Linked DNA regions of Homo sapiens. The protein of the gene in region 4 purifies or fractionates together with the protein of the main gene of each other region. This does not show direct contact. Each region holds a gene or a part of one and is shown on either strand. Other genes may lie near its edges. The genes, in order: DCAF13, EEF1D, HEATR6, CHEK2, RAI14, PPM1G and RBM25.

What was found.
Region 1: the proteins of CHEK2 (region 4) and DCAF13 purify together in Homo sapiens (affinity purification with mass spectrometry; one study listed by BioGRID and IntAct). This does not show direct contact.
Region 2: the proteins of CHEK2 (region 4) and EEF1D purify together in Homo sapiens (co-purification; one study listed by BioGRID and IntAct). This does not show direct contact.
Region 3: the proteins of CHEK2 (region 4) and HEATR6 purify together in Homo sapiens (affinity purification with mass spectrometry; one study listed by BioGRID and IntAct). This does not show direct contact.
Region 5: the proteins of CHEK2 (region 4) and RAI14 purify together in Homo sapiens (affinity purification with mass spectrometry; one study listed by BioGRID and IntAct). This does not show direct contact.
Region 6: the proteins of CHEK2 (region 4) and PPM1G purify together in Homo sapiens (affinity purification with mass spectrometry; 2 studies listed by BioGRID and IntAct, with this or other methods). This does not show direct contact.
Region 7: the proteins of CHEK2 (region 4) and RBM25 purify together in Homo sapiens (co-purification; one study listed by BioGRID and IntAct). This does not show direct contact.

What each region holds. Positions count from the first base shown.
Region 1 is NC_000008.11:103,435,886-103,439,385, reverse strand, and holds part of DCAF13 (DDB1- and CUL4-associated factor 13), read right to left. Parts: intron 1-3,500. UniProt on the Homo sapiens protein: Part of the small subunit (SSU) processome, first precursor of the small eukaryotic ribosomal subunit.
Region 2 is NC_000008.11:143,590,916-143,594,415, forward strand, and holds part of EEF1D (elongation factor 1-delta), read right to left. Parts: exon of another isoform or gene 2,981-3,500; coding exon of another isoform or gene 2,978-2,980; exon of another isoform or gene 1,746-2,977; 5' UTR 1,732-1,745; exon of another isoform or gene 1,297-1,731; coding exon of another isoform or gene 1,174-1,296; exon of another isoform or gene 1-1,173.
Region 3 is NC_000017.11:60,040,922-60,044,421, forward strand, and holds the end of HEATR6 (HEAT repeat-containing protein 6), read right to left. Parts: intron 3,214-3,500; coding exon 2,642-3,213; 3' UTR 87-2,641; downstream 1-86. UniProt on the Homo sapiens protein: Amplification-dependent oncogene.
Region 4 is NC_000022.11:28,693,321-28,696,820, reverse strand, and holds part of CHEK2 (serine/threonine-protein kinase Chk2), read left to right. Parts: intron 1-947; coding exon 948-1,111; intron 1,112-1,578; coding exon 1,579-1,694; intron 1,695-2,703; coding exon 2,704-2,789; intron 2,790-3,500. UniProt on the Homo sapiens protein: Serine/threonine-protein kinase which is required for checkpoint-mediated cell cycle arrest, activation of DNA repair and apoptosis in response to the presence of DNA double-strand breaks.
Region 5 is NC_000005.10:34,659,328-34,662,827, reverse strand, and holds part of RAI14 (ankycorbin), read right to left. Parts: intron 1-3,500. UniProt on the Homo sapiens protein: Plays a role in actin regulation at the ectoplasmic specialization, a type of cell junction specific to testis. Important for establishment of sperm polarity and normal spermatid adhesion.
Region 6 is NC_000002.12:27,389,092-27,392,591, forward strand, and holds part of PPM1G (protein phosphatase 1G), read right to left. Parts: intron 1-3,500.
Region 7 is NC_000014.9:73,100,034-73,103,533, reverse strand, and holds part of RBM25 (RNA-binding protein 25), read right to left. Parts: intron 343-3,500; coding exon 56-342; intron 1-55. UniProt on the Homo sapiens protein: RNA-binding protein that acts as a regulator of alternative pre-mRNA splicing. Involved in apoptotic cell death through the regulation of the apoptotic factor BCL2L1 isoform expression.

The DNA.
Region 1 (3,500 bases), on a different chromosome or scaffold from region 4:
AAGCTTAATTAAAGTGAGTTGATGATTTACATGTGTGAAAAGGAAGGGAGGACTACAGAAGTGTCTGATAAGTTGAGGTAAGAATAATTTAATAGAGCCAGGTGCGGTGGCTCACACCTGTAATCCCAGCACTTTGGGAGGCTGCAGTAGGTGGATCACGAGGTCAGGAGATCGAGACCAGGTGAAACCCCATCTCTACTAAAAATGCAAAAAATTAGCCAGGCATGGTGGCAGGCGCCTGTAGTCCCAGCTACTTGGGAGGCTGAGGCAGAATGGCGTGAACCCAGGAGGCGGAGCTTGCAGTGAGCCGAGATCGTGCTACTGCACTCCAGCCTGGGCAACAGAGCAAGACTCCATCTCAAAAAAAGAAAAAAAAGAATCATTTAATAAATGGAGATGTCAAATATCATACCTATTTGGAAAGGCTGTGAAATATGCTAGAAGAATTCACAGGTGATACTATATTAGTAAGTGTTAAGAAAGGCATTAAAAAGCAAGTAAAATACAAGGTCAGAAAAAGTAAGATGAAACTTCTGGAGAAATAAATTTTCTGCATCTGGATTAAATTATTCAAAATGCAGAGTATATAAAGAGGAAGGAAACAGGCTCAATAAACTATGCACAGTAAAATAAAACTCAAACAGAATGACTAAATCAAATATTCATATCTATAAAAAATATCTCTAAAGTAGGCAAGGTGCAGTGGCTCATGCCTATAATCCCAGTACTTTGGTGAGAGGATTACTTGAGCCCAGGAGTTTGAGACCAGCCTGAGTAACACAGGGAGACCCCATAGCTACTAAAGATAAATTTTAAAAATTAGCTAGGTGTGGTGCTGCTCAGGAGTCTGAGGTAGGAGGATCACTAGAGCCCAGAAGACAGGGGCTGTAGTGAGCCGTGTGGCATCACTGCACTCTAGCCTGGCTGACAGAGCCAGACTCTGTCTCAAAAAAAAAAAAAAAAATCTCTCGACTATACTCACAAAACTGGTCTTTTACACTGTTTCTGATAGGTATGTTTTAAGCACTTTGATAAACCATTAGAAATTCATTTTTAAAAGAGAGGGGATGATTAAAAAGAACGTCCTATTAAAATGAAAACTAGATGAGATAGACTGCTTTTTCTTCTCCCGCTCAGTGCTCTGCTTTTGAAGACTCATTTCTTATAATCTCCACATACCTAAGAAGCCCTTTTTTCCAAAGCAGTATAATGCATTTGAAGTAGGGAAATTCAATCAGGTTTCCGTAACCATTAAACATAATCTGTTCATGCAGTAGACCAGTCAGATCCAACGGTTAGTCACTTAAGTAACTGAGAATCCTCCCCAATGGTAAACTATGCTGAGTTCTTAACTTCTAGATATGTTTATGTCTGCATATATGCTAAGTTTATTAAGCTCACCAAAAGTTCTACTATTAGGAGATAAATACATTTTTAAAGGCTTAAATTCTTTATATACACAGTCACACTAATTTTTCCATGTGAACACTATTAATTTACTTGTTTGCTCAGTAAATACTGAATGAACTTCCAACAGAAGCCTACTTTCAAATACTGACTTAACTGTAGTTTTAAAAAATTTACTCAAAATTTATTTTAAAAATAATATGCTTTAGCCATTTTAAGGTCTTTTAAAGGAAAATATTTTTTAAATACAGATTATTCACCCAAGCATGAGTTATTTGATGTTTATAATGATAGGAAACAAACCACAGAAACAAATTAGAACTAGCTTTCAAGCAGATAAAGGCAAAGGTCAGAGGGAACACCATTTATATCTAAACACAACAGGACGTTAACACATATTAAGACTGTGATTACAAAACCTCCAAATGACATCAGGAGACAATTTCTTAGAAATGAAATATAAGAACCCTTTTATACAATTTTGGAATAATGTGAGTTTTCTAGCTAGACCTACATTTAGCTGTCCACACTAGCTTTGGAATAATTCAGCCTGAACTCAGCTGCTGGCCCCTTGGGATCATAGGTAACTACACAGTCCTGTTTTTTTCTTTGTTCTCGTTTCATTCTTTTGTCTACTTATGTACCATGTTGGAAAAATACTATCCTACTACCTTTGGAAGTTGTGGTGCCAAGAAATGATGGAGGACCATATTCTCTTGATTCTCAACATTTTCCAGAGGTGAGAGAAATATGGAAGCTATTAGTCTTGCCTTGGGCCTAAGTGAATAATGCCAAAAAAACACTCATGACAATTTGGAGAATATCAAGGCAGCAACAAAGGAAGCAATAGTCACATAGGAACACACAGCAGAAGCTCTACAACAGAAATGATGAAATGAAGATCAAAGTCATCAGAACACTCCTGTCAGTATGCTTCTAACTGAAGCACCTTCATAATCAGATAAACAGTGATGAAGATAATTATCTGCTGACAATGACGATACATGGTGTAGAAATCCATATGGCTTCCTCAAATTACAGTGGAAAAAGACTTAAATATCACAAGTAAAAGAGCAAAGAGTTAGATAAGCAGATTGACTATGACCATGATCATCCAATTATCATAATTTTTTGAGAAAAATTATTTCCATTTATTTGGATTTATTTTATGGATGCTTCCAGGAACACATCTAAAGCATTACTAAGGAACAATGGGAATGTGTATAACAGCTCTTTGTAAACCATAATTCACTATACAGGGGGCTGTATCTATACAGGACTTAGTTTTTAAAGTCAGTCTGTAAAGTGAAAACTCGAGAACAAAATTCCCCTTGCAAACTCCTTAAAATGCCATCACTTTCTGTAAACTACCTCTTTACAAAAATAAGATATAATAGATGTATAAATAGATACTGTATTTAATAACATATAATATGTAGTAAAGGGCCAAACTATACAAAACACAATAAAAATCTTAAATATTAGAATCACACTCTATGTGCTTACAAAATGAGACACACACGAGACTATGGGACAGCTGAGTATTCAAATCTCCCACCTCTCAACCTCTCATCAACCAAGCCATATACCTACTAAAGTGAAATAGAGGGAGAACGGTCTTGACAATTTAAACTTACTTTTATTTCTTTTTTAATTTTTGGTTTGGCATACAGAGTTGGATTTGACTAAGTAAAAAATAACAAATGTAAAGTATTATTACTAATTTTTCTTAAACTGTATTGGAGCAAAAAACTTTATTAAACTCAGGTACCCTCTCAGAAAAGATAAATAATAATCAGGACAAAGAAAAATGAAACAAAAATAGTCATATGACATTTTGGTCAATGAGAGACTGCATATACGACAGTGGTCCATTAAGATAATACTGGATTTTTACTGTACTTTTCCTGTGTTTATATATGTTTACATAAACAAATACCACTGTGTTACAATTGCCCACAGTATTCAGCACAGTAACATGCTGAACAGATTCGTAGTCTAGAAGCAACAGGCCATATCATATGACCACACAGCCTAGGTGTGCAACACGTTATACCATCTAGTTTTGTTTAAGTGCACTCTGATGATGTTCA
Region 2 (3,500 bases), on a different chromosome or scaffold from region 4:
GGAGCTTCTTTGTGGGCCTGACTGTCCTCCCCAGGAGGGGGCCAGGTGGCCGGGCAGAGGGTGGAGTGCCCACTCATGAAGGAGACGCCAGGGAGGATGCTGGTGACCACTGTGTAGAAAGGAGGGGCCAAGCGCCTGGAGCACTGAGACGGCTCTAGGCTCTCTATCAGCTGCCCCCGCCTCCCAGCTGGAGTCCATACCTTTGGGTCCATCCAAGCTAAAGGGGAATCATGGGGCTCTCACAGTCCCAGGACATCAGGGCCCCCTCTAAGGTTTTGCTTCTGTGTAATGTTAAGAGGGACCATCTTGGTGGGAGGCAGGTTGTGAGGCTCCACTCCCCACTTGCTACTGTGGCCTGGGAGCCTCAGCCTCCTCCCTGGATGAGGTGTTCCCTCAAGCTCTGGGCGACCTCAGTCACCTGCTGCCCCAGTGCTCCAGCAGCCATGTGGGATCCTGCCGGGGGCACGCTCTGCTCCCAGGTGTCCAGTGTGGTGTTACAGAAAGGACAGGCCCAGAAGGCCAGGGGCAAATCTGCTCTTGGGATGCAGGTCAGCACCCCAGCCCGCGCTCAGCCTGCGATAGCTTCCTCCCCAGCCATGCCCGACTCCAGGCTCTGCTCCCCAAAAGCAGAAACGCCTGGGCCTAACCAACGCCTAGGAGCACCCTCAAGAGGGGGCTGTGCAGCTGCCCCTCACAGACACCGCTGCTAGTCTGCTGCCTCCGCAGGTGTGTCTAGTGGAGCCTGAGGGCAGACAGACCCAGTGGCCCCAGGGCACCGTGACTGGGACCACCTGCCTGGTCTGCACCCAGAGGGAGGCAGCCTTCGGTCAAGAGCAGACCCTTCACACCAGTGGCTATGGGTCTTCGCCCCTCTTCTAACATCCTTACCCAACAAAACCAAGGCTGGCTCCAACGCCCCCCGTGGGGTGCTGAGCTGTCTACGCTCCACCCAGGCAGGGAGGACTTTTGGGAAGGCACCCCTGGCACTGCACTCTGCAGCCTCTAAGTGGAACATGGAGTTCTTTGCGGGCATGTGGCCCGAATCCCGCAGTCCCAGCAACAAGTTCTAATGGCACCAACGAGGAACCGGGGCCCATGGGAGGCCACAGGGCCCATGAAGACGCTCCCTAGGCTCCCCTGCTCATTCCTTCCCCAGGCTGGGGCAGCACTTACCAAGGCCAGGCTGATGGGCAGAGGCAGGGGTTGTGGGTTGGGGGTGGGGTGGGAGCAAGAGCCCAGGAGACAGGGCATTGTGACATCGTGCGGTGGTACCCCCACCAGTCTCTCTGCTCCCATGGAGCCGTGCAGGTCCCATCAGCAGTGCCACTGAGCTGGCCCCCAGTGTTGATGCCCTACCAGACTTTATTGGCCAAAGTGGCCTCAGACTATGTTCTTGGGGGCTCCGGGCAGAAGCCGCCGCTCAGGGAGGGGAAGCCACTTCAAGGCTCCTACCGAGACCTGGCACTGCCACCTGTTCCCTGCAGGGAGCCGCATGTCAGCTGCTGACCCGCCAGCCCAGGACAGGACCCTGCTCACGGCCACACAGGGTGCCCACCTGCTGCTGCCCCATCCAGAAAACCCAATTCCTCCACTTTCCAGATGGGAAACTGAGGCCCTCTGGGCAGACTGGGCCATGCGCAGGTGGTGCTGGGTTCCCTCAGGTGCAGCGAGGGCTGGGGGTTCCCCGGTCAAATGAAGGGGAATGGGGCATGAGGACAGGCGAGTACTTACTTTGCTTTGGCCTCCTAGGACAGCATGAAGGAAAAGCAGCAAGGTTAGAGGCAGCCAGAAAGACTAACCGGGTCAGACACAGCAGCAGGTCAGCCCGGGGCGGCCGGGGGCCTTTCCAGAAGCTGCTTGGCGAGGTGGTGTGGAGGTGACACTGGTGGAGATGGAAGCTGAGCGCCAGACAGACCCGCCGCCACCACAATCCCAGGTGGCAGCTGAGTCCACACAGGTGACGTCACTCCGTCATCCCCTGAAAGGGGAGCTCTTGGGATTACTGTCAGTTGGAGCCTAGGCAGGCCCTGGGGGACAAGCAGGGACCACTATCTGAGCCAACCTTTCCCAAATCCACCCACCCTGTCGTCACCTGAGCAAGGTAGCCTGAGACAAGATAAGCCAGCGCCCACAAGCATCCCCTGGAGCTGCCAAGGAGCTCCCCCAAGCCCCTCACCTGCACTGCCCCTGTGTCCGGTCTGCTGAAGGAGGCCCGGAAGATGACAAGGACCCTCAAGGGGGAGGCAGCCCAGGGCTCACATTAATACAGGGCCTCTCTCTCAGCAGGAGCCACCGTCAAGACAGGGCTGGCACCCAAGGGCCCCAGCACAAGCTACAAAGGCCTCCCAGACTGACTCTCCCACAATGTGCACACAAGGACAGGACCTCCACCCAGTTCACTCCTCGGCTGGAGACACTAGGTGTCCTGCCCCTAATCTCACCAGAGCCACCTCATAAACCCTGCAAGCTCTGCGAAGGGCAGCTGGGCACAGCTGAAAGCCCAGCCACCAGCCCATGTCCTGGGTGGGACTGGGCAGGAGGGGCCACCTCCTACTGCTGATCAACCCGAGAGCCCTGGCTGGGATCCGTCTTCCTTCACCAACGGGAGCTCCGGCCCCAGGGCCCTGCCCACCTCTGTGCACCCCACACTGCAGCAGGGAGCACCCTGCAGGGAGGAACTGGGCACCCTGCAGGGGTCTGGTGGAGACGAGGATGCTACGGAGGCAGCTGCCCCATGGGACCAGTAAGAGGGATCTTGGGTGGGCTTCCCTGCAGAGAGGAAGCCCTCAGGAGACACCACAGTAAGCCATGCTGGAGACCTGGAGGCCAGGCCCGTCACCTGGGGAGCTGGCCACTAACAGCGGGCAGAGAGCCTCCCAGGACAGCCAGCACAGCCCCCCACACGTCCGAGCCCACCTCCTCATTTCCCCGCTTCCCGCATTCCCAAGCATGGGAGGACCTGCCGGACGCAGCGCACCATCTCTCCTAACAGAGACCAAGTCTGAGCTTCAAAGCTTGCGCAGACGACAGGCACGTGCAAGCCTCTCCTCTCCAGCAGGAGAGCCCGGAGCAGGACACAGCGACTCTTTCAACTGCGTCCCGACAAACGGTCAGCCCCTTCGCTCCTGCAGTTTATCCAAGCTCAGGAGGAGCTTTCTAAAGAGAACACAGGGAGACAGCTGGCTGCCAGAGAAGCAGTCTTGGAAACGCCAGAGCCAGGCCCCAGGGGGAAGTGGCCAAAGTGTCCCTACTCTGCTCCTGGAAGCAGGCCAGGCTCACCACCAAGGCTCTTCCCTGAGGGGTAGACAGTGTCTGCCAAGCACCTGAGCCTCTGGCAGCTGCCCAGAGTTTGAGAGTGCCCTGGGGTCCTGGCTCTGGAAGGCTCCACCCAGCTAACAGGGCCTGTGACACAGGTGGCAGCCAGCAAGACCCACTGCAGCGGCATGGCCCTCACAGCCTCCCCTGTCCCTGTCCTGGGAGCAGCCCCGGCAGACTCCTAC
Region 3 (3,500 bases), on a different chromosome or scaffold from region 4:
GCCTGGATGACTCTTCCTCCCAATTTTTAAGTGTCAAAAGATAATTTAGAATCTGGCATTCTGCATTAGAAATCTGAACCAGTGGAGCTGTGTGCTGATTTTCATCAGCTTAAGTTGTCTTTATTGTCAGTGGCTTCCTTTCCCCACAGCAGCTTTATGGAGGCACGTGCCCAGGCATATGAGGAGCTTCTGTCCTTTAGTGTATGTACACCCACAATGCTGCAGAGAAGAGAATCAGCATACTGTTGGGACACAGCAGGTACCACTGCCTTCTGAAGTTTCTAGAGGTGCTATGCCTTCATTGTTTTCCTGCACATGAACATTAACATCCACATCAGGATCTGGAAACCTTTACAGAAGCTGAAGTTTTAAAAAGAAAATGAATGGGATTTTATTCAAGATAAGGAAAGGATAAGAGTGAATCATCAAATGAAACCATGAGGCCACTTCACAAATATTTTATCAAAAAACTCACCTGAGAAAACTCAAAGAATCACAGTAATAAGCTGTCTATGCCATATTTTTTTTTTCCTTTTTTGAAAATGCCAAGAAGCTACTACTAAGAATGTATTCAAGAGACGGAAGTTCCAAGATTCATCACAGGGTCAGGTGGGCTCAACTTAGTTTCCTGGGCCCTCTATAACACTTCATGTTCAGAATTGTCTCCAAATAAAAGCAATTTAAGGGAACATTCAATATGGGTGTCTTTGCTGTGCTTGCAGTCTTAATTCTGTGGACACTGATATTCTATCAATGGAAAATTGAGCCTTTAGTGAACTTGAATACCCTGTTCCCCAATCACTGCCCAGAGAGCAGTTTCTGAGCAGCCAACATGTCAGAGGCAGGAAAACAGCAGCTAAAAGGCAAAGGAGAAAAATGGAAGACACCTGCCTTTACACGTGTATTTTAAGCTAAATAACCATGATAAAATATCACCAACACCCATTTTTTGTAACTTCTTAATTGTCCCACATCAAAGATAAGTATGGACAACTGTAATTGGTTCTTATATATCCCTAAATTCCTAATTGAAATCAATTCCAATAAATCGTTGGTGCTCAGTAGAAAAATGCAAAATTTAAATATATATATTCAGTAGAAGTTACCTTCATAACTTGTGGGGCATTATCAAAATATAATTGGAAACCCCTCTTTGTAACCAACTAACCAAATGATCTTTTCTTAAAGGCACAAATTAAAAGGTGGCAAAACAACCATATATTTAGTGTGTGGGATCACATTCTCCTAAAGAGCATCAGGAAATGTAGGTAGAAGTCAATGTTGTAGCCTAGGTTAGAAGGCCCTGCTTGCTGGGAGTTAACTCTGGTTATTGGATTGTGGGGAGGTGTGGCAGGGAAGGTGGTCAGGGGAACACGGGCACTCCAGAAGCTCGGAGCAGCAGCTCATCAGCTGTGAGGCACCGTCAGCATCCTTGCGTCCTGTGTGGCTGTGAGGCACTGTCAGCATCCTCGCGTCCTGTGCGGCTGTGAGGCACTGTCAGCATCCTCGCGTCCTGTGCGGCTGTGAGGCACTGTCAGCATCCTCGCGTCCTGTGCGGCTGTGAGGCACTGTCAGCATCCTCGCGTCCTGTGCGGCTGTGAGGCACTGTCAGCATCCTCGCGTCCTGTGCGGCTGTGAGGCACCGTCAGCATCCTCGCGTCCTGTGCGGCTGTGAGGCACTGTCAGCATCCTCGCGTCCTGTGCGGCTGTGAGGCACTGTCAGCATCCTCGCGTCCTGTGCGGCTGTGAGGCACTGTCAGCATCCTCGCGTCCTGTGTGGCTGTGAGGCACCGTCAGCATCCTCGCGTCCTGTGCGGCTGTGAGGCACCGTCAGCATCCTCGCGTCCTGTGTGGCTGTGAGGCACCGTCAGCATCCTCGCGTCCTGTGTGGCTGTGAGGCACCGTCAGCATCCTCGGTCCTGTGCGGCTGTGAGGCACCGTCAGCATCCTCGCGTCCTGTGTGGCTGTGAGGCACCGTCAGCATCCTCGGTCCTGTGCGGCTGTGAGGCACCGTCAGCATCCTCGCGTCCTGTGTGGCTGTGAGGCACTGTCAGCATCCTCGCGTCCTGTGTGGCTGTGAGGCACCGTCAGCATCCTCGCGTCCTGTGTGGCTGTGAGGCACCGTCAGCATCCTCGGTCCTGTGCGGCTGTGAGGCACTGTCAGCATCCTCGCATCCTGTGCAGCTGGGCCAGGACAAACTGGCTGAACTGCAGCTCTGCTTGCAGCTTGCTAGAAATACAACTTGGTAACAACAGGAGATTGTGGACACACTATTTTTCGTTAGTTTATTACAAAACTACAGATACAATACACAAAATTCTAATTCCGAAATCCTTCTACATTTTTTTTTTCTGAGACTAAATGCCCTCAAAGCCCGTCTGCTTGGCCTGTATTACAACCTGACTCCTCGGCTCCTGGATGCACAGGTCAGATGTTCCAACAACCCTGACCATGGCCAGTGCTATGGAGTCACTCCAAAGGTGGTTGAGCCCTCTGTGAAAATTTAAATGGCTGCTAAGTCATTCTAAATAAATAGTGAACGGATTGTTTCTGCCCCTAAGATGAAATCCCACAGATCTTATGCTCAAGCTCAGGTCTTCCTACTGCCGCCTTCGACATCTAGAAAGTATGGTGGGATCTTCACTGATTTGTTAACCCTGGGAGTGCCCCTTGTGATCCAGATGAGTCAAAACAAACGGCCAGGATCTCTTCTAAAAAGCCCATGATGGCCCTTCTGGCTGTGTCTCCAGTTGGTGCCTGGATGCTGCCCATGTGTTTAAGGGCCATTCTGACCATCTGGTCTCTTTCCTGTGGGCTGTGGGGTGCTCCAGTGTCATCTCCCTCTGCTCCTGATTTTAAAAACTGTAGAATATAGGACTGGACCATATTCCCACTCAGTTCAAGGGTTTCTTTCATACAAGGGAGGTCCGAGGCACTGGCCAAGCTCAAGAGGTGAATCAGTGCCTGGCAGATTTGGGTCCGTAGGCTGACACAGTACTTGAATTCCAAAAAGTCTATGGTGTCTTCACTCTTCTGTAAAGCGGTGACCAATGCATTCCAGATCCGAGCATACTGGTCAACAGACCCGTACTGCTCTCTCTTCCCCGGGACGGAAAGGGCAGCTGCAGATCTGATGCGCACTTTGAAGTTCTTGCATGATGTCACGACCGATGTCAGGGCATTGTAGGCCTGGGAGGTCCATGGGGCTGTCCCTAGAAAGAATCCACAGTCACTAAAACAAATGCAGGCTTAGAACTAGGTGGGGTGAGAGGGAGAGGGGTGGAAGGAAGCTTAAACACTAGTGCTCAAGACACTCATTTTATGTGTTCACTTCATTCTCACAATCATCCTGTAAGACAAGGGTGGTGACTGACTGTAGGATCCTAGGTAAGTGGCCAGGTGCCAATCCCCAAACCTCCCTCTTTCCCTACCTCAGCCTGCCACACGCTTAGAGCCTCTGCTACCCAATATAAAGCCTTTGGTGACTCAGAAAAAGGCT
Region 4 (3,500 bases):
AGCGTAAAAAGGATGAGAATCTGACCCTTTCACTGTTACCAATTATTTTAGAGATCAGGTGATACTGCTCTTATCCAGATTCGAATGAGCATTTATTGAGCTCTGTTGTGTACAAGTGACCTTTGTGCTTAGAGAGAGAGGAGGGGTCTAAATGGACGAGTGGGCTGGGTATGGTGGCTCACACCTGTAATCCCAGCACTTTGGGAGGCCGAGGTGGGCAGATCACCTGAGGTCAGGAGTTTGAGACCAACCTGGCCAACATGGCAAAAAATACAAAAATTTAGCTGGGCATGGTGGTGGGTGTCTGTAATCCCAGCTACTTGGGAGGCTGAGACACGAGAATCACTTGAACCTGGGAGGCAGAAGTTGCAGTGAGCTGAGATCGCACCACTGCACTCCAGCCTGTGCAAAAGGGCCAGACATCATCTCAGAATAGGTGAATGAATGAATGAGTAATCACATGCGCTGCCTTTCCCTGTTTCTCAAGTCTGGCATCACTTTAGAATCTCTTGTTAGGATTTATGACACCCAGGCTTTACCTCAGAAGCTGAGAGTGGCACTCAGGTATAAGCATGTGTTTCCAAGCTCCCCAGGTATTCCATAGCGCAGCCAAGTTTGAGACACTGGGGTCTAAGAACCATGTAGAACTAATTAGAATCCTGAAGTGTCTGTGATAAAGATAATAAGCTTTTTGTAAGATTACAGAGGACATAGGTTAAGTTGGAAAGCCTGAGTGTTGAGATTCCTAGGCTCAGGAATTTTAATTTAAGCAAAATTAAATGTCCTAACTTGCAAAGACATGAATCTGTAAATTCCAGATTAATGGCAGGTGTGAATTGTACAATAGAAACTGATCTAGCCTACGTGTCTTCTTGGACTGGCAGACTATGTTAATCTTTTTATTTTATGGCAAGTTCAACATTATTCCCTTTTGTACTGAATTTTAGATTACTGATTTTGGGCACTCCAAGATTTTGGGAGAGACCTCTCTCATGAGAACCTTATGTGGAACCCCCACCTACTTGGCGCCTGAAGTTCTTGTTTCTGTTGGGACTGCTGGGTATAACCGTGCTGTGGACTGCTGGAGTTTAGGAGTTATTCTTTTTATCTGGTAAGAAATATTTTCATTGCTGCACAGACTGGTAGGAGGTGATTAGATGAAGTCACAAATGTGTCTTGCTCTGTTGTCCAGGCTGGCATGCAGTGGCTTGATCTTGGCTAACTGTAGCCTCTGCCTCCTGGGTCAAGTGATCCTCCCACCTCAGCCTCCCGAGTAGCTGGGACTACAGATGCACACCACCATGCCCAGCTAATTTTTCTATTTTTTGTAGTGATGGGGTTTTGCCATGTTGCCCAGGCTGGTCTCGAACTCCTGGGCTCAAGTGATCCTCCTGCCTCGGCCTCCCAAAGTGCTGGGATTACAAGCCTAAGGCATTGTGCCCAGCCTAGCTCACTTTTTGACCATTGATTTAAAGAAAAATCTGACTTTTCATTATGCTGAAAAAGAAATCTTTATATCTGAATGCCACTGAGAATGCCACTTGATTTCTTTTCCTTTCTCTCTCTACCAATATTAAGCCTTAGTGGGTATCCACCTTTCTCTGAGCATAGGACTCAAGTGTCACTGAAGGATCAGATCACCAGTGGAAAATACAACTTCATTCCTGAAGTCTGGGCAGAAGTCTCAGAGAAAGGTATGAATATGAAAGGGTTAAGAATTTGTGGTATGCTAAAATGTGTATGTGCTGTGGTGGGAGTTTCTTCCCAAATTCCATGGTGTTTTCTCCTGTCAATTCTGTTCTTATTTTCTATTGTTAGTTTCACACCATTTGAGAGGCACTGGAAATTATTAAGAGCATGCACTCAGGTCCTGGGTCTGCTACTACTTAGCTGTGTGGCCTTAGGCAAGTTATTTAACCTCCATCTCCAATTTCTTTCTGTGTAAAGGGACCCTCAATAAACCCTACCTTAAAAGGTTTTTGTGAGGGTTAAGTATCATGTACACAAGTGCCTGGTACCTATTTTAGTGAGCAAAATAAATGCACTTGTAACTTTTTAGTTACAAGGTTTCCTTTGAGTAAGCAAGCATGTAAAAACTAGATGTCATTAGTTACCTTGTATTTTATAATTTATCCTGGCAACTTTAGTTCCCTGAAGAGAAAGTAGAAAATTAAATGTCAAATAACATAACATAGGTGATTGTGTTAAATGTCAGAATATTTAAGGAATAATAATGTTGTAATATACAGGCCAGCGTGCATTTGTTGCTTGCTGGAGTAGCCAAGTTTTATTTCTGACAAGTCTGCAGTTCCAGGGAGCCTCTCCCTCGCTGAGTAACTGTCACCTATCCATCTGTAGATGTCAGAGAGAGTTTGCTGTGCATCCCAAGTATCTTAGAATTGGGTAGAAGTTTAGCTTTAATTAGTCCGACCTTGAGTCTAGCAACAAGAGAGGGAACAGGCAGTGAAGAGGTCGTGACTGACGTCCCAGCAGCAGGAGACAGGGAGTGTCATTATCATTCCTGGTCTTCTCACAGTACTCTGAATACAGAGAGTGAGGAAGATTAGGGGGCCCTGTCTGCTGACTCCGTGATGATCTCAGACCCTCTCTGCTCTTTCTGAATGGTGGCCTGTTAATTCTGGCATACTCTTACTGATAATATATTTATCCTTTTCACTGTGATTTGCCCAATTGTTGCTTTAGCTCTGGACCTTGTCAAGAAGTTGTTGGTAGTGGATCCAAAGGCACGTTTTACGACAGAAGAAGCCTTAAGACACCCGTGGCTTCAGGTGGGTGTGGGACAGTGCCTGCTAGCATAAAATACATGGGAAGCCCTGCTGCCTGAGAGACATGAGACAGAGGACAGAAACATGTTTACTTTGTTGAGTGTTTAATCTAATTGTTTTAGATGTATGGGGGGTATCTTGGAGGATGGGTTACAACCTGTTTTATTTTTTTTTTTGAGACAGGTTCTTGTTCTGTCACCCTGGCTGGAGTGCAGTGGCACGATCTCAGCTCACTGCAACCTCTGGCCCCCGGGTTCAAGTGATTCTCCTGCCTCAGCCTCCCAAGTAGCTGGGATTACAGGTGCATGCTGCCATGCCCAGCTACTTTTTGTATTTTTTGTAGAGATGGGGTTTCGCCGTGCTGGCCAGGCTACAACCTTTTTGATATTACTCATGGCTGTTGGATGTACACGCTCACTTTATGTCCTGTTCTGGTTCCACTTGGCTGCCCCGAGTCTCCTGTTTGGCCTGTGTTCTTTTGAGTGCTTGTTCTGGCTCTACCCCCAGCCATGTCCACTGCTCTTCATAGGTGGGGTGCATTCCAGCCATCTTCAACCTTAAATCAGGGAAGTGGGGGAGGGGGAGGAGGACAGCCTCCCTGGGGAGAATCCAGCTATTTCTCAAGCCCAAGTGACTGGGTATAAAGGGTCCCACTGCTTGTTCATTCAGGTGAGTAAATGTGTCCTTAATGAAGGCTGTCACCTGCACTTTTCA
Region 5 (3,500 bases), on a different chromosome or scaffold from region 4:
GAACTTGAGAGGCGGAGGTTGCAGTGAGCCGAGATCACCCTATTGCACTCCCGCGTGGGCAACAGAGTGAGACTCTGTGTCTAAAAAAAAAAAAAAAAAAAAAAAATCTGTTTAAATTGTGCAACATTTTACTAATAATCATATAATTCTATGTTTATGATTTTCAGCTTAAAGTTTAACCCTATCTGGATCCATAATATACTGATTTCTTTCAATATCATTTTATTACAGAGGATACAATAAGAAATGTAAATGGTGTACTTCAGTATTCTAGTAATGTTTTAAAGGATATCATCAGTATCGTATACCTAATATAGTTCACTGGGAAAAAAAATCTAGACTCCTTTTCCCTATCACCATATAAAATGCATCCAAGAGGCCTCTGATATATTTAGCTTTGTTTTGTCAACTCCTATACTCATCATGCAAGGTAGAAAAAATTCAGTTGGCTTCTACTGAAACAATGCATTAGTGCTATAATAGTGAATGTTTTTTGTGCCATGAATTAAGGACTGTACGATGTGGCAATTCTTAGAGTATATCTAGGGACCTTTCTACATATTAGTTGCTCCAACATCTTCAGATTAAGGTTCTCATTTTCCTTCCATCATGAAAAATACATCCCTCCTCCCCCTCCAAAAAAATCCTCATAGATAAAAGCACAAAGTCAGGGCAATGATGATGTACACTCTGCAACAATCCAACAAAATACACTGTTTGTTCTTAGAAACGCAGTGTGGACCGGGGGCAGTGGCTCATGCCTGTAATCCCAGCACTTCAAGAGGCTGAAGCAGGAGGACCTTCTGAGCCCAGGAGTTCAAGACCAGCCTGGAAAACATAAGGAGACCTTGTCTTTGTAAAAAGTAAAAGAAAAACTAGGCAGGTGTGTTGGCACGCGCCTGTAGACACAACTATTTGAGAAGCTGAGGTGGGAGGATCACTTGAGCCCAGGAGTTCCAGAACAGAGCAAGATCCCATCTCAAGAAAAAAGAAAGAAATGCAGTGTGCTTCATGTTGCTTGGGATGGCTGCTGGCCTGTTACTGCAGATGTCGTGTGGAATACAGTCAGCATCTACTGGTTATGCATCTTCCACATTCATCGCATTGGAAACCAGGTTATCACAAAAGGAAAGATGGGTGTGCTTCCAAGCACCGTGTTACTTATGTTTTCCTCTAAATTCAGGATTAGGCAAAATGTTGGGAGAAAAAAAGTCTGAAGACATTAAGTGGCTTATAGGATAAATCACATAGATTTAAAAGGAGTGGTTTCCCTAGAAGACATAAGTTTTCTTACCCTGAAGGAATCTGTAAATATGAGATATGGTGCACATACCAGCACCATTTAGGATATCCAGTAAGTGTTAAAGGCGAAATTCCACAGAGAAAAAATAACAACAAAAAGCATATCCATTTGTTCATCAAACATCTGTTTACCTGCTAGGGGTCAACATTGTTCTAGACACCATGAATACAACAGTAAACAAGAGTGGCAAACCCCATGCCTTTGTAGAGCTCATAATCTAGTACAGAATACTGATATAAATTATAGATTGAGTATCCCTAAACCAGGAATCTGAATCTGAATCTGAAATGCTCCAAAGTCCAAAACTCTTTGAGCACCTACACGACACCAAAGGAAAGACCCACCGGAGCACTTCAAATTTTTGGATCAGGAATGTTCAACCATGTAATACAAATACTCCAAAAATTTTAAAAATATCCAAAATCTGAAACACTTCTGGTCCCAAGCATTCTGGAATAAAGAATACTCAACCTATACACGGCAAGCTAGAAGGTGGTAAGTGCCTTGGAGGTAAATAAAGCAGGGATGAGGTTGCAGGCTGGACTGGAAGGAGGTGTCTCAACATAACACCTGAAGGGATGACACAGCCATGTAGACGTCTAAGAGAAGTGCTTTCCAGGTAGTGGGAAGAGCACATGCAAAGGCTCTGAGGCAAGACGCCTGGTGATCCTTTTGCAGAATTCACGAGCATGATGATTGCATGTGTAACATGTGTCTGACATGAACTTAGGGAAAAAAAAAAAAAAGAATGTGCCCAGCAATTTGAAGGAATGAGGACGCCAATGTGTTTAAATGCCTTAAACTCCTTTCAGCCTGAGTGGTTACCATTAGGGTAAAAATGCGTCACTAACACAGCAACATTTTCACAGACTCTTAGAACAGGAATGTGCCTTTGTAAATGCTTACTCCTACCCCTTAATCTTACCAAAGAAATGAGGAAGAGGAGGTTGGGTGAGTAATCCAAGGTCACACGGCCAGTGAGTAGCTGAGAAAAGGTTTCTGCACAAGAATCCCAAACAGCACCATGGATTTGTCTCATGCTTCAATTTTACAATGAAGAGCCACTTTTTCTTTTTCTTTCTCTCTTTGAGTTGGAGTTTCACTCTTGTTGCCCAGGCTGGAGTACAATGGCCGGTGGGATCTCGGCTCACTGCAACCTCCACCTCCCAGGTTCAAGCGATTCATCTGCCTTAGCCTCCCGAGTAGCTGGGATTACAGGCATGCGCCACCACGCCTGGGTAATTTTGTATTTTTAGTAGAGACGGGGTTTCTCCATGTTGGTCAGGCTGGTCTCGAACTCCTGACCTCAGGTGATCCACCTGCCTCGGCCTCCCAAAGTGCTGGGAGCTGAGACAGGGTCTCACTCTGTCGCCCAGGCTGCAATGCAGTGGTGTAATCTAGGCTCACTGCAGCCTTGACATCCAGGACTCAAGCAATCCTCCCACCTCAGCCTCCTGAGTAGCTAGGACCACAGGCACACCACCACACCCAGCTAATTTTTGTATTTTTTGTAGAGATGAGGTTTTACCATGTTTCCCAGGCTAGTTTTGAACTCCTGAGTTCAAGCAATCCTCCTGCCTTGGCCTCCCAAAGTGCTGGGATTACAGGCATGCAACACTACACCAGTCCCACTTTTCTTAATTAAAACAAAGAAAGAAAAAAGAAAAAAATAATCCAGCCAACTATGTAATCTTCTTAGAATTTAATCAGTTTCACTTTTTTAGTCAACAGATAGCCAAGACCATACAAGCACCCTAAATATTTGTTGAAGAATGAATAATAAATGCAATATTACCTAAACTTCATTACCCAGCAACTAACTAAATAAGTGTGTAACAGAAAAATGTGTGCACAAGAAAACATCTCAGGATGTTTATTGTACAAACTGTTATAGTAAAAAGAAATAAAAATAAAAATGAAAATGGAAATAGAGTGTCACTCAGCAGAAAAAGTGTAACAGTGAAAAACTAGGCCAGGCACAGTGGCTCATGCACTGTGGAAGGCTGAGGTAGAAGGCTCACTTGAGGCTGAGAGTTCAAGGCCAGCCTGAGCAACATAGTAAGACCCTGTCTCTACAAAAATGAAAAAAATTAGCCAGGCATGGTGGCATGTGCCTGTGGTCCCAGCCACTTTGGAGGATGAGGCAGGAGGACTGCTTGAGCCCAGGAGATTGAGGCTGTAGTGAGCAGTGATCACG
Region 6 (3,500 bases), on a different chromosome or scaffold from region 4:
TCTGGTCAGCTACCTTATGGTGTGCCTCAATTTTATCCTCTGTGATGTGGAATTACAATATCCACCACATCCACATCATCACAGAACTGTTGTAATGATGCAAAACACATAAAAGCCCTTTGTAAACTGGAATTTGCTACATAAAAATATATATATATATACACACACACATACACATATATGTATATTCTGCTCTGAAATTTAGCACCCATTTCACATTTTTCTTTTTTGTTCTTTTTCTCAAAGAGGACCACCCACAATAAAGATTCGTCTTACACCTTGAGGTCTCAGTCCTGAGAACTATCGCACAATTACCCTCTCCTTCACTTCTTGGTGAGGCTTGGGATCTATATTATGATTTGGAACTGTTTCACCTTCCCTAAACACTTTAATTTGCCCCCTTTACATGTCTGCTCATAACCTTTACCCACACCTTTGCTTCTCTCTATCCCTTACTGAGACAGAGCCAAGTATTTCAACATGGTCTCTTAGAAATCTAGAAAAACTCACCCAACCTTGTATAACCCCACCAACTGATTTATGCCTGAATCAGAACTACTAAGTTTGCTAGTCATAAAATGTTATGAGATTGGCTAGGTGCGATGGCTCACACCTGTAATCCCAGCGCTCTGGGAAGGTAGGCAGGAGGACTGATTGAGATCAGGAGTTGGAGACCAGCCTAGGCAACATAGCAAGACCCCGCCTCTACAAAAAAATTTTAAAGTTAGCCAGGCATAGCAGCATGCACCTGCAGTCAGTCCTAACTACTCGGAACACTGAGGCAAGAGGACCACCTGAGCCCAGGAGGTGGAGGCTGCAGAAAGCTATGATGCACCACTGCACTCCAGCCTGGGTGACAGAGGGAGACCCCATCTCTAAAACAAAACAAAGTTATAGGATCACATTGACTGTGGTAATTACTTCATTTCAGCATCTTGTTTTCTTTTTTTTTTGAGATGGAGTCTCCCAGGCTGGAGTAGAGTGGCGCGATCTAGGCTCACCATATCCTCCACTTTCCAGGTTCAAGCAATTCTCCTGCCTCAGTCTCCTGAGTGGCTGAAATTACAGTGGGCACCTGCCACCACGCCCAGCCAATTTTTGTATTTTCAGTAGAGACGGGGCTTCACCATGTTGCCCAGGCTCTTCTCAAACTCCTGAGCTCAAGTGATCTGCCCAGCTCGGCCTCCCAAAACGCTGGGATTACAGGCGTGAGCCATTGCAACTGGCCAAACACAGAAATTATCCTCTCTTCCTAGATTAACATTTTTTCTTAAACTCCTGATCTCAAATCCTTCTCCTTCAAGGTCTTACTACACAGAGAATGTAATAACCTTAACAGCAATCCAAATAGCCGTTTTGGCAATGGCTCATGCATGTAATCTCAACATTTTGGGAGGTCAAGGCAGGAGGACTGCTTGAGGCCAGGAGTTCAAGCCTGGGCAACATAGTGAGACCTCATCTCAACAACAACAACAACATCCGTAAACAGCCATTCTGCAGACTTCATTTCCCCTAGCCATTATGTCAGATTAAACAGTACAAACCATGTCAGTTTTTTTTTTATTTTTCAATGTTTATTTTAGAATCACAGAATACATGTGTAAGTTTGTTAGAAAGGTATACTGTGTGATGCTGAGGTTTGGGGTATGACTGAACCCGTTTCCCAGGTGCTGGGTATAGTATCAAATAGGTAGTTTTTCAGCTGTTCCTCTGCCACACAACCCCCACCCCCACCCTGCCGCACCACCACCTCTAGTAGACCCATGTCTATTGTTGCCATCTTTACATCCATGTGTACTTGATGTTCAGCTCCCACTCTCACTGCGTGAGAACACGCAGTATTTGGTTTTCTGTTTCTGTGTTAGTTTGCTTAGGATAATGCCCTCCAGCTACATTCATGTTGTTGCAAAGACATTATTTCATTATTTTTAATGGGTGCATAGTATTCCATGATGGCTATGTACCATATTTTCTTTTCTTTTCTAGTCCGCCACTGATGGGCACATGAGTTGATTCAATGTTTTTGCTATTGTGAATGGTGCCACAATGAACATACAGGTACATATGTTCTTTTGGCAGAATGATTTATTTTCCTTTGGCCGTATATCCAGCCATCAGATTGCTGGGTCTAATGGTAGTTCCACTCTTAGTTCTCTGAGAAATCTCCAAACTGACTGTGCCTACGCTAAATTAATTTACACCTTCACCAACAGTGTACAAGTGTCTGCTTTCCTCTGCAGCCTCACCAACGTTTCTCATTTTTTGACATTTTAACAAAAGCTGTTCTGACTGGTGTGAGATGGTATCTCTTTGTGGTTCTAATTTGCATTTGTCTGATGATTAGAAATGGGCGTTTTTTCATGTTTGTGGGCCACATGTACGTCTTTTGAGAAGTATCTGTTCATGTCCTTTGCCCACTTTTTAAGGGGGTTATTTGCTTTTTGCTTGTTAGGTTCCTTATAGATTTTGGATATTAGACTTTTGTTGGATGTATACTTTGTGAATATTTTCTCCCATTCTATAGGTTGTTTACCCCCTTGATAGTTTCTCTTGCTGCATGTCACTTTTCTTGAAAGATCTCTTGGATTCTGTGTAGTTCTATACCTCTGACTGCCTGTTTCTACAGGATGTTCTTTTTTTCTTTCTTTTTTTTTTTTTTGAGACAGAGTCTAGCTCTGTTGCCAGGGTGGAGTGCAGTGGCGCGATCTCGGCTCATCACAACCTCTGCCTCTCGGGTTCAAGCAATTCTCCTGCCTCAGCCTCCTGAGTAGCTGGGATAACAGGCACGCGCCGCCACGCCCAGCTAATTTTTGTATTTTTAGTAGAGACGGGGTTTCACCATGTTGGCCAGGATGGTCTCGATCTCCTGGACCTCGTGATCTGCCCACCTTGGCCTCCCAAAGTGCTGGGATTACGGGTGTGAGCCACTGCACCCGGCCAGGATGTTCTTTCTCTCTATACCTCAAACTTAACACATGTAATCAGGAAATCAGCAGTCTGCAAAAAAAAAAAAATCAAGAGCTTCCCCTACAGGTCTTATTTCTGTAAATGGAATCTTAACTCTCCCAGACAACACTTAATACCAGAGTCATGCTTAACTTCCTGGCTGTCTTCCACCATCCATCACTGAGTCCTGCATGCAGTCCTTCATCATGTTGTTGTTCCTGGATTACTTTGTTTTGTTGGTTTGTTTTGTTTTTTTTTTTTTTTTTTTTTTTTGAGAGAGAGAATGTCTCCCTGTCACCCAGGCTGGAGTACAGTGGCATGATCTCAGCTTACTACAACCTCCGCAGCCCAGGTTCAAGTGATTCTCATGCCTCAGCCTCCCAAGTAGCCGGGATTACAGGTGTGTGCCACCATGACTGGCTAGTTTTTATATTTTTAGTAGACACGGGGTTTCACCATGTTGCCCAGGCTGGTCTCAAACTCCCGACCTCAGGTGATCCTCCCGCCTCAGCCTCCCAAAGTGCTGAGATTTAGGCATGAGCCACTACGCCAGC
Region 7 (3,500 bases), on a different chromosome or scaffold from region 4:
TACCCGATAGTTTTCTTAAAGCTATCAGGAAACAGTAACTTCTGTAAAGCCTTACCTTGATCGACTGCGATCCTTATTACGATCTGAGCTCCTTTCTCTATCCCGGTCACGATCTCTCTCTCGATCCCGATCTCGGTCTCTCTCTTTTGTCCGGTCACGGTCCCTATCCCGTTCTCGTTCCCGCTCCCGTTCTTTCTCCTTTTCTCGTTCACGTTCTCTTTCCCTTTCTCGTTCCCGTTCTCGCCTTTCTCGTTCCCTTTCACGCTCCCTCTCTCTTTCTCTCCGTTCTTTCTCAATTTCCTGTCTTTCTTTTTCCTTTTTGCCTTTCTCTTCTTCCAGTTTCTAGAAACCAATAAAAGCACTTTTAGAGTTAACTCTGTAGCTCCAGTATTCAGATTTTTCCCGGCGCAAAGCCCAGTACTGGGAACAAAAACACCAAACCACTGATACATTAATATTAAATACTTGTGGTTTTATGTGACAAATTAAACTGAAGCAATCACAAGACTAGAAAGATTTCGTGCAAAACCATATACTCTACACAGACCAGGAATCTCCAATCTTGGATGCTGGGAGATTGTGTCAGGTGTGGCTGGCCACTCAATGACTATGTACTAACTAAAATGACCATGAAGAATGTGGTGGTTCGAAATATTTTCTATGAATACGATCATTGGTTAAAACTCAACTCTGTGCATTATAGATTTCTGTAAATCCACAAGATTATTAATACTAATTAAAACCCCAGACTGCACATTACCTCAAGTTGAGGGTTTCAAAGGGCAAGTGGTATAGAAGAATACCTATAATGCAACTAAATAATCTCTGCCCTCTGATTTGCCCACCCTCCAAAAGAAACACAAGCTGAATTCAGCCAAGAACTGCCTTATCATCTATGGAAACATTTACTCCCACCATTACAAGATGGACAGCCCACCAAATACAAAAAGTTTGAAAATCACTCACTTCAAGCAAAATATATGTAACTGTAATAGTTTAATTTAAAATATTTAAAAGCAACATACTTATGCCCATTATGCCTGTAAGACAATGAAAATATATTTACAATGATAAATCCATCCTTGGAAGGAACGATTGTGCATTAACTTACAGATGCTGTGCTAGGACATGGATCGCCAACACTGGATTAACCTTGCCTACAAGCTATGTTTCTGGGAGGAAGAGCAAGTACATGGTTCACAAATAAACCAAATAACAAAGTCAGACCAAGTTTGTACCCTGACAAGATTACCAGTGTACCACACGGTTTCTACACAAACTCAGAAAAAAATACCCCAAACAGGTAAAACAAAACAAAACAAAACACATTTATCCCTTTTGTTTCACGTTTAGTTTCACCAAAATGAAATTTTAAACTGCAACAATAAAATGTGCATTTTTCTTTTCTCAGTCATGTAATGCATTTAAAACAACTTTAAAAAGCAATCTTACCTGTCAGATACTCTTTTTCTCTTCCTCATGGATCAGAGAACTTATAGCAGGTTATGAAAGGAAAGCTAATGTATGAGCAATATATTCAGTTGCTGTGCCAGTCTATATCGAAGTAGAATACGGGCAAAGTCAAAACTGAATACATTGAAATTACAAAGGGATGAAATAAGATATGATAGAAAGAGGACAGAAACTAACAGCTATTAAAGGGGGAAAAATCTCATTTCTGAAACAGTTCCAATGAATATAAAAATTTATATTGTAAAATGAGGCTAGACTATATAAAACTTACCTCAATGGCATACACTTATAAAGAAATTTGTTTATTTCTGAAATAGATACTTACAGAATATTTTAGCTGTTCCAATACTAATTTTTCCTGTAGAATTCCTCAATTTTTAATTCTTGCTTATTTCACTGTGCTCCTTATATTCAGTTATATAAATAACCATTTGTTTCAGAACTCATTTCAAAAGTTTGGTTCTAAGTAAATGAAAAAGTGAGTGAATCTAGTCCATACTAAATGTTTCCTGAAGTTTATATATGAGATATATATATATATATATATACACACATGTATACAAATACAGGTATACATGTAAACATACATGTATATTTTTAAAGAAAGACTGGAGAAGGGAAATGAGGTGAGTCTAAAATTATGTAAGAAAGTCATGAAGAGGAAAGGACAGATTAAAAAATCATAAATCTTACCTTATTCTCTCTTCAGACTCATCCGTGCTGTAAATGGACGCCCCCTGCCACGCTGATACCCTGACAGTCTGTGGTTATTTAATAAACTCATACCAAAACATGCAAAGGTTCACTGAGCTCATTTTTTGTTACTGGAGTTTCAAACAACCCTTTTAGCCAAACCACCCAATAAAAAACAACTGTTTTGGTTTTTCATTTTGATTTCTTTTTATTTTGAAAAGACATTCTGAAAATTCAAAACATTCCCTCCAGTGAAATAATACTAAGGCAGTAAAATGCCTAACAGATTCCCAAACTTTAAAGCAAATATATTTTTGAATTTTTCTTAAAACATGATTTCCTCATAATTTACCAATAACATGACAGGGTTTAACAAATAAATAAAAACAAAAAGGGGGTAAACCACACACACAACCATATACCATTTTTAAGCTTACTCGGTCCTGAATTTCAGTATTATACCTAACCAAAATTATTCATCTAAAATGATTTCCCATAGACCACCTTTTCAACTCTCAAAATTAATTTTGGGAGAATTATGTTTGTGCTCTTAGACACATTTAATTCTTGAAAAAGCATTGTGTTTGTGAGCAAGGGCTGGGCATCTGGATAGTAAGTGTTCAGCAGCACTGATTCATTGGCATTATTTGTGAACTGCAGATTTTGAAAGCAATGGGAAAAAGTAAGAATAAAAGAGAAAATGAACATTTAACATTTCACTGAGTTAAAGATCTCTCAGTCTATCAGTAAGAACCAGCAACACCTTATTATCTCGACCATCAAAATACATTTCATGCAGTGTTTGCATTGCACCGTTCAAAAGCATCATTTTCAACACCAGCGAACATTCACAGATGCACTGTCATTGAGAGAAGCTTCAAATAGGCAAAACTCGTGAGTGGGATTTACTATGCATAAATACCCATTTCCAAGCCAGTTACCCCTTTGCATATTTTTCTGAGGGGGCATCCATAAATATAATAAAAAACAGAAGCTCATACTTACATCCTATTCCTTGTTACTTTCCAAGCTGAGAGTTTCATCTTGCATTAGTCACCATATGATCTCTATCATAATGGTGGGGGTCAATGAATAGATTAGCTTTATGGGAATTTACAGTTCTTCCATGCATCTAAAATTTGGTAAGTCTGGTAACCACTGACCTACTGTTTAAAATCTCCCCCACTCAACTTAAATCTATACAAATATAAAATGTAAATTTTAATCTCAGCTCTAAAGAAAAGGTATTCCTAAGATCAAGTTAAATAACTGCCCCCAGAAATACACTACAGTGTATGTTATCCTGCTGCCCCCTGAATCTAATTTAAGTCTGA